2 separate regions of the Homo sapiens genome follow, and region 2 is linked to region 1. Evidence: fine-mapped expression QTL. A gene starts in region 1. The other region holds a variant in brackets. All regions are shown on one strand. Distances are from middle to middle.

Region 1 (5,380 bases):
AGTTTAAATTCTGAATGACTTAAAAATTGAACTATTTAAAAAAACTGTAACTAATACTTTTAAAAAATACTGCTTTGAACACAAAGGTGTATATGCTGTTTGAATTCAGGATAAAGATATCTACATATTCTTGTCCAAATTAAGTACACCATTCCTTACACAAGGTCCTTCATAATCTGTTATTTTAAATCTGTTACCAATTTGAACATAGAGATCACATTTTCTTGCCTCATCAATCATCGGGTAGTAAAATGAGAAATAACATTCGGCATTAATATGCAAATCTGGACAATTTTTACAGCAATTACTTGATTTGTAGTCACAAACTCTACTTAAACTGACATGTCTTCCTTCTCCTAACAATAAAATAACACCATTAAACCTGAGACTTAATTTCAGTCCATAAACTGGGTTTGTTCTCGTTATTAATAATTCTTGTTTCATAATATATCCAGTAATGCATATATTTTAAGTGTTGATATGTATTATATTTGGCAATAATATTCAAGTACATTACTCCAACCTCTTAAGTGAAAATCAGCAATCAAAGCAGTGCCTTAAGCAGAAAGCATTAATATTTAGTGATTGCAGGCAGCACTGTCATCTTTATGTCTATAAAGATGCAAACAAATTTTATTAACAATGCAAACAAATGCAGACAGATGCAAACAAAGTTTAAAGTAGAATGTTTTAAACGTGTGCCCTGAAAACAAGTCTATTATTAGACCCCCATAAGGAGATTCAATTCTGAAAAGATCCAAATGGAAGTCTGTCAAACTGTATATACATCGTGGTGATTCTTGAAACGAAAATATCTTCCCATTATTTAAATAAGCAAAATTCTACAGACCCTTGAACATGTCCTTTATATGTTATTCTCCTTATACACGCAACATATCCTGCTTCCTGGTTATAACGCCATTCTCAAACACAAAATCAGGCCAATTTTTAAGAGAAGCCAAGACTTAAAAAGCTCGGCGGCGATGGCTCACGCCTGTAATCCCAGCACTTGGGGAGGCCGAAGCGGGTGGATCATGAGGTCCAGAGATCGAGACCATCCTGGCCAACATGGTGAAACCCTGTCTCTACTAATACAAAAATCAGCTGTGCGTGGTGGCGCGCGCCTGTAGTCCCAGCTACTCCCGAGAGTTTGAGGCAGGAGAATCGCTTGAACCCGGTAGGCGGAAGTTGCAGTCAGCCGAGATCCTGCCACTGCTCTCCCGCCTGGGAGACAGAGCGAGACTCCGTCTCAAAACAAAACAAAAAACAAAACAAAAAAACTCCTTATGATATTTCCTCTTTGATATTTGCCTATATTAGGATTACCACATAACATAAAGGTTACGGGGAATTTATCAAGAATGTAAAGACAGTTAAAGCTTAAAGAACTTAAATATTACCTAAGCTAAATTTACATAGGAGAAAACTGGTGCCCAAATAAATCAAGCAGCTTCGCAATATCTCAGAATATCAACGCCAGGATTAAATGCCGCTGGTTCTGTGGTTTTTCCAGCAGCTCCAAAGAAACATTTTTAAATTAGGGGTTTAAAAACTACCAGATGTTAGGAAACAAAGGCGGTGCCACGACGTGTGCTGCCGTCCGTGTGTCGGGGGAGAGGCGAGCTATCTTCCCTGTGCACCCGCGGCCTCCCACTGCCCACAGCCCAGCACACACGAGGTACTCGGGGAAGAAACAGGGAGACAAAGGCAAAGTAAAGTTCGAGGCTCAGTCCCGGCTAGAACTCCACGCAAACGACTAGGAGCCCGCTAAAGCTCACCCAGCCTGAATTCAATTCTGAAACCAGACTGCTGAATCTCACCCAGCCGTCGGGACGCCCCAGACGGCGTCCAAAGCCTCCAGGGGACGCGCGGACCCTACAACGGCCAGGCAGCGGCCCGGGCCTGCAGCGGTCGTTGGTCGTCGGCGTAAGCGTGTCAGGAAAATAACACGAAATGCAGCACAGGTGGGAAGCGGCCGGAAGGCAGCGGGGGAGAGCGGAAATAAGGCGGAGAGCGCAGGGCGCCGCGGGGCGGAAGAGGCCGCCAGACGCCCCAAAGAGACTGGCCGCTGGGCCCTCACCATGCAGCGCCTGGGTGACGGCGAGGGCGCCTTCTGGCCGGATGCTGCCGGGGCAGGAAGCAGCGTCTCGGACACTTGCCCTCCCACTGCTCGACGGGGCTGGGGAAGGACGAGGGTGAACCCCGCAGCCACCGCCGCCAGCCCCCACTGTGTATTCGGCGTGAGAGTGAGCCGGGCACTATCCAGCCGTTAGCAGTGGTCTGGTAGTGACCCCGTTTCCCCTTTCCCCTCCTCACCCCTTCGGGTCTTCAAATGTTGGTCCTAAATCCCGGGGCCCAACGACCAAAAACCGCCGCCACCGTTTAGGGGACCAGTCGGTCAGAGCGAGGGGGGGTCGTCGCAGGGGGAGGGTAGCCCACCGGGACCGCTCGCGCTGGTCCTCGTGTCTCCACTCGTTTCCCAGCGCGCAGCGCGCGCGGTGGCCTAAGCAGCCCCACGAGGAGTGGTGCCTCATCCAATCAGGGATTAGCTTCGGGGCGGGGCGAGGAGGAGAGAGTGGGGCTAAAGTTTAAATGAGGCTCTTGGGCTAGTCAAAGTGCTTGGAGTGACAGGCATTTCGAGCAATTGGGGTGAAGAGAGCGATTTTTAGGGTGTGGGTGGGCACGGAATAATAAATGAAGGTCCTAGGTGCATTGTTTAGGTGTTTGAAGACGAGGGCTGCAGTGTGAAATTCCGCACTTAAGGGAAAACATAGATGCATCGTAATGGTTCTTTTTCTTGTTTGATGTAGTTTTCTTGTAAACTGCTAGTTTGGCGCAAAACAACCACATATATCCGGTGGACCTTTGAAATTAAGGGCTAGGGGGAGGTGGGTTATAAAGCTAAAAGATGGATTTGCAAATAGGACTAGAAGTATAAAGTATAAGTGGTTTAAATGACAATGACTAAGAAAATGGGTTAGATGAGGAGAACTAGCGATAGGCTTGACGCTACCACTAATCAGCTTGCAGGGACATTTGGCAGAGGCGAACTGCCGAACTGGGTTCTATGCTCTTGTAAAACCAACTTTCACAGATAGGGTTGTTTGGCATTCGGTATGCATAACTTCAGTTTTGCTTCCTTTGAAGACAGCTCGAAATTAAATGCAGACAAGGAAAGAAAAAACCACCTTTAGGAACCAACTATTTATGTATAGATAATATTAGATTCATGGAATATTAGACAATAAAGAACCTAGCTCATGTTGATTCTCTAATTAACAAGGAACTTCATGCCCAGAATATTCACCGAGTAACACAGATCTCCTTATTCCCAACCTCAAGGTGATTTCTTCCACATTAACTCCTAATGTATTTTCTCCATATATTCAAGGAACTAATGAATGTCTACCAATTTAAATTTTGTTAAAGTATATTTTTAATTTTTAAATATACTACAACAGTGAGGAATTAGCAGGGACTTTGGAGCCAGACAGACCCTGTTTAAAGTGGGGATTGTGAGAATAAAATAATATATGATATTACCAAATATTGAGCCAGATGCCAGAAACAATCCTAAGGACTTTTCATATTTTCATTTAATTCTCACAGTAACTTTGGTAAAGTTACTAGCCCTACTTTGCAGACGGGGAAACAGATGCAGAAACCTTAAGTAGTTTGGGCAAAGTCATATAGCAAGTAAGTGGCTCCAGTTTGAAACCTACAGACATAATTGCTATACTATACTGTCTCAAAATACGTCCAGAAACAAGTAGAAAACTTGGCATAGTACTTGATGCACACTGGAAGCTCAACAAATATTTTTTGTAAGCCGTCTGCCCTTTAGTCAATGAATACAAGTGTCATTTTATATAAGATGTATGCATTCAAAATAAAGCAACTAGAAAACCTAGACTGATAGATCTAGTTGGCTTTGTTTGACATGTCACCAATTCTGTACCTCGGGAACTGTGATTGTTATATTGATTACTATTTTTTGCTGCTCTTTTATTTCTCCAGAAAAAGATTCTCCTCATTCTTCATTTTCATGTCGGTACCTTCTCAATTCCTAGTAATTAATTCTAAATACATGTGTTTAAGGTTAAATTATCTGAAATGAGGTTAGGCATATTAGTGGCAATTTAAAACAAGTAATTTCTAGGAATGGCTGTAAGATCCTTAAGGAGTCACTAGGTGGAGATGTTGTGAGGTACAAAGATTGTTCTTGGAAATAGCCTGGAAGGTTGTTGAACATTGCTGGTTTTCTTGTTTCCCTTTTTGTCTTTTTTCTCCCCAAGTATAAAGAAAACCAAATAGACAAGGGCTTCTCAATAGGCATTACAGTCAGACCATAGAACCTTGCCATAGATGAGACAGTGTTGTTTAAAGACCCTTCCCATACTTAACATTGTATGTCATTTTGGTTAGATTTTGTCTAAGTTTTTATTATCCTAAAGTTTATTAATAGGTATACTTTTCAAATGCTATAAAAACTATTGTCTGCATGTACAATTAAAGAAATGACCTTTAACTTTATTTCTCAAGGCTCCCAGAGAAAGAGATCCAAAACACTTTTATCAGCTAGAATTCTTCAGTAACAGATTCCAAATTGGATTTGTTTTAAGATTATTTGAGCTTATGGGAAAAGGTGACCCAAATGAGTAAGAAGGAAGATGATAAGCAATGTAAAGGTGTTTGTGACTAAAAAGAAGTGTCGAAAGATACTTGGCATACAAGGGAGAAAATAGAAGGGGATCTCTGCAAACACCAGAAAGAGAAATAATAGTGACTGTGTGACATGGGAAGTAAAAGTTATCAATAAAAAATTGGAAGGAGCCGGGTGTGGTGGCACACACCTGTAGTCCTAACTACTTTGAGTTAGGCTGAGACAAGAGGATCACTTAAGCCCAGGAGTTTGAGGCTGCAGTGAGCTATGACCGTGCCACAGCACTCCAGCCTGGATGACAGAGCGAAACCCTGTCTCAAAAAAAAAAAAAAAAAAAAGGAAGAGATGCAAAATTCAAGTGGTTAAAAATAGTCTGAATACATGTATTTTCCCCATATAAAATGCAAGCTTTTATATCACTTAGAAGTTAAGATGCAAGCTTTTATATCACTTAGAAGTTATTTTCATATACATTCTGCAAAATACACCCCCTGACAAAGGAAAGAGAAGCAATGGGAAATCTTTAAAATGTTTAACATCCAACTTAGTCCTCTGTTCCATATAAATGAGCCTGTGCAGTGATCTGGTTTATTTTCCATGTGTTGGAGCTTCTTCAGCTTCCTTTATCACTGTGGCAGTGATATGACACAGATCCACCAAAAACATGGCAGCTACTTGCATGTTTATAGAATTAATGATCTACAGCACATCGCTCAG
Region 2 (5,380 bases), 150 kb after region 1:
GAAGGCTGGGCACAGTGTCTCCCACACCTGTAATTCCAATAGTTTCAGAGGCCAAGTGAGAGGATCACTTGAGCCCAGGAGGTTGAGACCAGCCTGAGCAACAGAGCAAGACAAAATCTCTACCCAGAAAAAAAAGGAAAGAAAAGAAAAAAAATCTTAACATTAGCCAAATGTGGTGGCACACACCTGTAGTCCCAGCTACTTGGGAGACTGAGGCAGGAGGATTGCTTTAGACAGGAGTTTGAGGCTGCCTTGAACTATGTTCATGCTATTGCACTCCAGCCTGGGTGACAAAGCAAGACCCTGTCTCAGTTAAAAGAATAATACCAAGAGGAATCCCATAGAATTGTGGCTACTGGATGTAGAGTGGTCAGGGGACAGCGTCTTTGATATGATAATATTTGAATGAGTAGAGACCTGAAGGAAGTGAAGTGCTTGCCATGCACTGTCTGGGGAAAGAGTGTTCCACACCGAGGGGCAAGTATGTGCAAAGTTCCCAAGACAGGGATGTGCTTGGCATATTGTAGTCATAACTGGGAAACCAACGTGCCTGCAGTGTTGGTGAGCAAAAGGGAGAGTAGAAATAGATAAGACCAGAAAAGAAGAGGAAACTAAATCAGTTTTGTAGATCTCTAAATGAGATAAACCATTGGGAAGTTTTCATCCAATGAGGGATATGATTCTCCTGCATAGGTACTCTTGCAGCTGTGTGCAGAAAAAAAACTTTGGGAGTGCAAGAGAGCAACTAGGATGACTAGATCAGAGGCTATTGATATAGATCAACTAGAGAGATGCAGGTGTGGACTAGGCTGATGGTAGACATCAAGTTTGACTGCAAAGATTTTGGCTCGAGCATGGAAAGATAGGGATTCCATTTAATGAGGTGAACAAGACTTGGGAAGAATCAGATTTGGGGTAAAGATCAGGAGTTCTGTTTTGAACATGTTACTTTTGAGATGCCTATGAAGATGTCAAGAAGGCAGCTGGATACCTGAGTATGGATTTTAGAGGAGGACAAGTCCATGTTGGAGGCATAAGTGTGGGATTCTTCCAAGATGGTGATGTTAAATGTCATAGATGGAGAGCACTTAGAGAGGATGGAGTCAGAGAAGAGGCCTAGTACACATCAAACTTTAGCTTTTAGGGTTGAGGAGGAACCAGTCAAGGAGACTGAGAAGTAGTGGGCAAGGAGGAAGGAGGAAGACCTCATGAGACTTCAAGTAGAAAGTATTTCAAGGAGACAATGATCACTTTGGTTAAATGCCACTGGTAATCAAGGAAGAAGACAGCCAAGAATTGAAGACTGAATTTAGCAGTCATATAACAATGGATGGGGGTTATTGGTCCCAGATTCCCTGAAATGAGAAAACCAAGGTTCTGAGAAGTTAAATAAATTGAACAACCAAAATCACATAGCCACTTAGCCCCAGAAATGGGTCCAGAACTAAACACTGGACACAAGCCATCTGAATCTTGTTTCCTGAATCTCAGACCAGGACTTTTCTTCAATAACATGAGGTCATCCTTCTCATGGTAACCGTGATTCATTAGGGGGACTGGAAAAGAATATTAAGACTTTAAACAAAAGGAATAAACTTCAGTAGTAGAATGTCAATGACAGACAATGCTCAAAGGCCCTCAAATCAAATGAAACAGGCAGCCACAGCAACAAGGGAACACCCAAGTATCAAAACACACTTCAACATACAAAAAAGTTTACGGCCCCTCAAAAGAAATGATCTATTCGTTCTATTTTGCTAGATGATTTCTACATACATAAATACCCGAGGCCTGATTACCTTCACTTGGTTTCTTTACCAAATGCCAGAAATGGGGTAGGAGAGGATTTTAGTAAATCAAACTAATGTTTAGGCAGAACAAAGGCACAGGAAAGCCCTAAACCATTTAAGTATTAAAAACTACTTTTAATCGTCCCTACTGCTGCCCTCTAATCCACAACCACCACCAACCTAAGAGGGCTATGATTCCAAGAGCCGACTCTGTTGCAAACCTCCGCTGGACGGTTTTGCGGACTAGGAAGTGAAGATTTCCAGTGGGAGGAAGAGCGAAGAAGAGAAGGAGGTAGATAAGCTAGCGAAAAGAAGGAGGTAGACAAGCTAGCAAAGCGAAGGTGCAGAATAGGAAAGTTACCAGGACAGGGCAGGGAGTTCCTCATGTCCACAGCAGGCCTTGCTCCCCTGGCCGGAGCCCAGGGGAGGGAGACGGAGGAAGGCAGCCACTTTTCCAGTGAGAAGTTGAGCAAGGAGTTGGCACCCGGCCCTCTCTACCTCTAGAGAAAAGGTAAAAGCTAAGCTGGATCGCGTGGTAGAGAAGAGCCCACTTTCAGAGTCCAAGTGGCATTATCTTGGAGTTCAGTGTCTGCCTCCAGGGCTGCAACTAACTCCTCGCGCCTCCCTTGCCGCCTTTCCTCCCTGGAAAGAGGAGGTGAAAAAGGTCCCAGGGCTCGGGTGGGCATGACTGCCTGGCGCAGGCCGCCGGGGGATTACCTGATACCTCCGCGTCTCCCCAGAAGGCGCGGCGCCGCCCTCCAGCCCCACCCGGTCACTCCGCGGTCCCCAGGCTCTGGTGTCTGTCCAATCTCCGGGACTCGACGCCCGAGGCGGCCGCCCGCGAGACCCGGAGCACGA[G/T]CCTCACGCTCAACGTTAGGCACTGCTCAAGGCCGCCCGAGGAGCAGAGACACCTACTGGCCGAGCGCTCCTGCGGCGGCTGGGCTGGGCTGGGGGCCGGAGCCCAGAAAACAGGGCTCCGCACACCCCCTACCGGGCGGGCTCCATCTGCGCCCCAGCCGAGTCCCGGACCCGCGTCTTGGCAGGCTCACCTACCTTGAGGTTCCCAGCTCCTGTCATCCTGTGCGCAAGTGATTTCAGCAACCATCACCACAAAACCTAGTCGGAGGGTGGCTGGCTCACAGCCTCTCCACTTTTTCGGAGTTTGTGCCAAATAATTTAAAGACCCTCCCCACCCTTTTCCAAATTCTGGCGTTTGAGAAGGGAAAATCCAAAGGGATGAGGATATAGGAGCCCCTAAGTGCTCTCCCCAGAAGCCAGGGAATTGTATTTCTGTTTCTCCAGGGCCCTGAAGAACCTGGCTTTCTTGTAATTACAAATACCTTTCACTGAAAAGTGGCTTCTTTCCTCCTGCTCCCTGCCCTGTGACAGTCAGTCCCTCCCTGTTCTGTCCTGGTAACTTTCCTGCTCTGAGCCTTGTTCCTGTGCTAGCTTATCTATCTCTTTTTCTTCTCTTATCCCGCTCTTCCGCCTTTTGGAAATCTTCACTTGCTACTCTGCAAAACCATCGGAGCAAGGCCTGCTGCGGACATCAGGACCACTGCAAATATTTTTTTCCAGGTTCTGAGAGGGATGCAGAAGACGCAGGAGCTGACAGTCTAGTTAATTTTTAGCTGACAAAGTCTCTCTCTCTCTCTCTCTCTCTCTCTCTGTCTCCCTCTCTGTCTCTTTCTCTCTCTTTAACACCTATATTTGAGTAGTTTTGTTTCCATCAGCACTCTTGTCTTTCCTTCTAGTCCTTTAATCCTGACTCTCTTCCTGGATTGAACTTAGGGAGGCAAGAGTTTAAATTAGAAGCAGTAAAATTGTATAATAAAAGGAAGAAGACAAACCAGGCCTTGCTTCTTAACAGGATGACTAATACAGTTTATGGATTATCTGGGTAGTTACATGACTAATATTAACCATTAACAATTATTGAGTTCTTAATGCTGACCAGAAACTGTTTTAAGAGCTTTTTTATAATAATAGTAAAATCAGCTCTTATGTAATGTTTTAAATGTTTACATTTATTAACACATTAGACAAAACAACCCTATAAGATGGGTAATAATATTATTCCCTTTTTACAATTGAGGAAATTGAGACAAAGAAGCAGGAACATTTCCTAAGGTCACACAGCTAGAAGTAAGTTATAAAGCTGGAATTTAAGCCCCGACAGCCTGGTGGATCATTCAGGGTACTCTAGAGGGACAGGACTAATAGGATAGATGTATATATGATGTATATATGAAAGGGAGTTTATTAAGGAGAATTGACTCTCATAATCACAAGGTGAGTCCCACAATAGGCCATCTGCAAGCTGAGGAGCAAGGAAGTCAGTCTGATAAAAGGAAACAGGCACAGAGAGGCTAACTAATAGTCCAGGAACACAGAGCTACTAACTTGTACAGGCAAGATTAGAACAAGTGAGTCTGATCCTTAACTAACCATGGGAGGGAGATACTTTTTTCCTACATTCAGCCATACAGAGGGAGAAGGGATTGCCTAAAAAGGGTGTGATGCTTTCATAACCTTCAATTAGTGAGCCCAGCTGGGCTTGGTGGCTTTTGCCTATAATCTCAGCATTTGGGGAGTCCAAGGATTGCTTGAGGCCAGGAATTTGAAACCAATCTAGGCAACTAACAGGACAACATTGTGAGACCCTATCTCTACAAAACTAAAAAATTTAAAAAATTAGCTGGGCGTGGTGATGCATGCCTGTAGTCCCAGCTACATGGGAGGCTGAGGTGGGAGGATTGCTTGAGAACAGGAGTTTTAAGCTGCAGTGAGCTTTAATTGTGCCACAGCACAGCAGCCTGGGCGGCAGAGGGAGAGCTCATCTCTTAAACAATAACAAAAACAAAAACAGCCCCTTGTGTGATGGTTAAACAAATCCAGCCCCTTGATTAGATTGAAGGATGCAAAGCATTGATCCTGGGTGTGTCTGCGAGGGTGTTGCCAAAGGAGATTAACATTTGAGTCAGTGGACTGGGCAAGGCAGACCCACCCTCAATGTAGGTGGGCACCATCCAATCAGCTGCCAGCGCAGCTAGGATGAAAGCAGGCAGAGGAATGTGGAAGGAATAGAATGGCTGAGTCTTCTGGCCTTCATATTTCTCCCGTATTGGATGCTTCCTGCCCTAGAGCATCGGACTCCAAGTTCTTCAGCTTTTGGACTCTTGGACTTACACCAGTGGTTTGCCGGGGCTCTCAGGCCTTAGGCCACAGACTGAAGGCTGCACTTTCGGCTTCCCTACTTTTGAGGCTTTGGGACTCAGACTGACTTCCTTGCTCCTCAGCTTGCAGATGGCCTATTGTGGGACTTCACCTTGTGATTATGAGAGTCAGTTCTCCTTAATAAACTCCCTTTCATATATACATCATATATACATCTATCCTATTAGTCCTGTCCCTCTAGAGTACCCTGAATGATCCACCTGGGTTTCAGGCTGAGTCCCTGAGAGTCAAGGCCTGACGTTGAGCTGAACTGTCTGTTTAAGCAGCTCCTCCCTTCCTGCACTCTACTAGCAATGCCAAGAGCATAAAGAGCCCTTCGCCAAACTCAGGGCCAGACTAAGGTCCCGCTGTAT

Direction of the effects. Positions count from the first base shown, and alleles are read on the strand shown. Sizes are in standard deviations (SD) of each study's normalised expression.
For the expression in tibial nerve of the gene that starts at base 2,481 in region 1, T is the high allele of the variant in region 2 and G is the other (moderate effect, 0.47 SD a copy in GTEx).

What was found.
Region 2: its variant is fine-mapped to the expression of RBM46 in tibial nerve (GTEx, PIP above 0.99).

Annotation. Positions count from the first base shown.
Region 1 is chr4:154,778,373-154,783,752 of GRCh38, reverse strand. RBM46 (RNA binding motif protein 46) reads right to left here and starts at 2,481. Exons shown (of 5, transcript NM_144979.5): 1 at 2,317-2,481. LOC105377500 (a long non-coding RNA gene) reads left to right here and starts at 1,880. Exons shown (of 4, transcript NR_188451.1): 1 at 1,880-1,964.
Region 2 is chr4:154,624,277-154,629,656 of GRCh38, reverse strand. It overlaps LOC124900169 (a long non-coding RNA gene), which reads right to left and starts at 2,695. Exons shown (of 6, transcript XR_007058343.1): 1 at 2,508-2,695. RefSeq lists a silencer at 2,739-2,868. The variant G/T (reference allele first, on the strand shown) is at 2,649.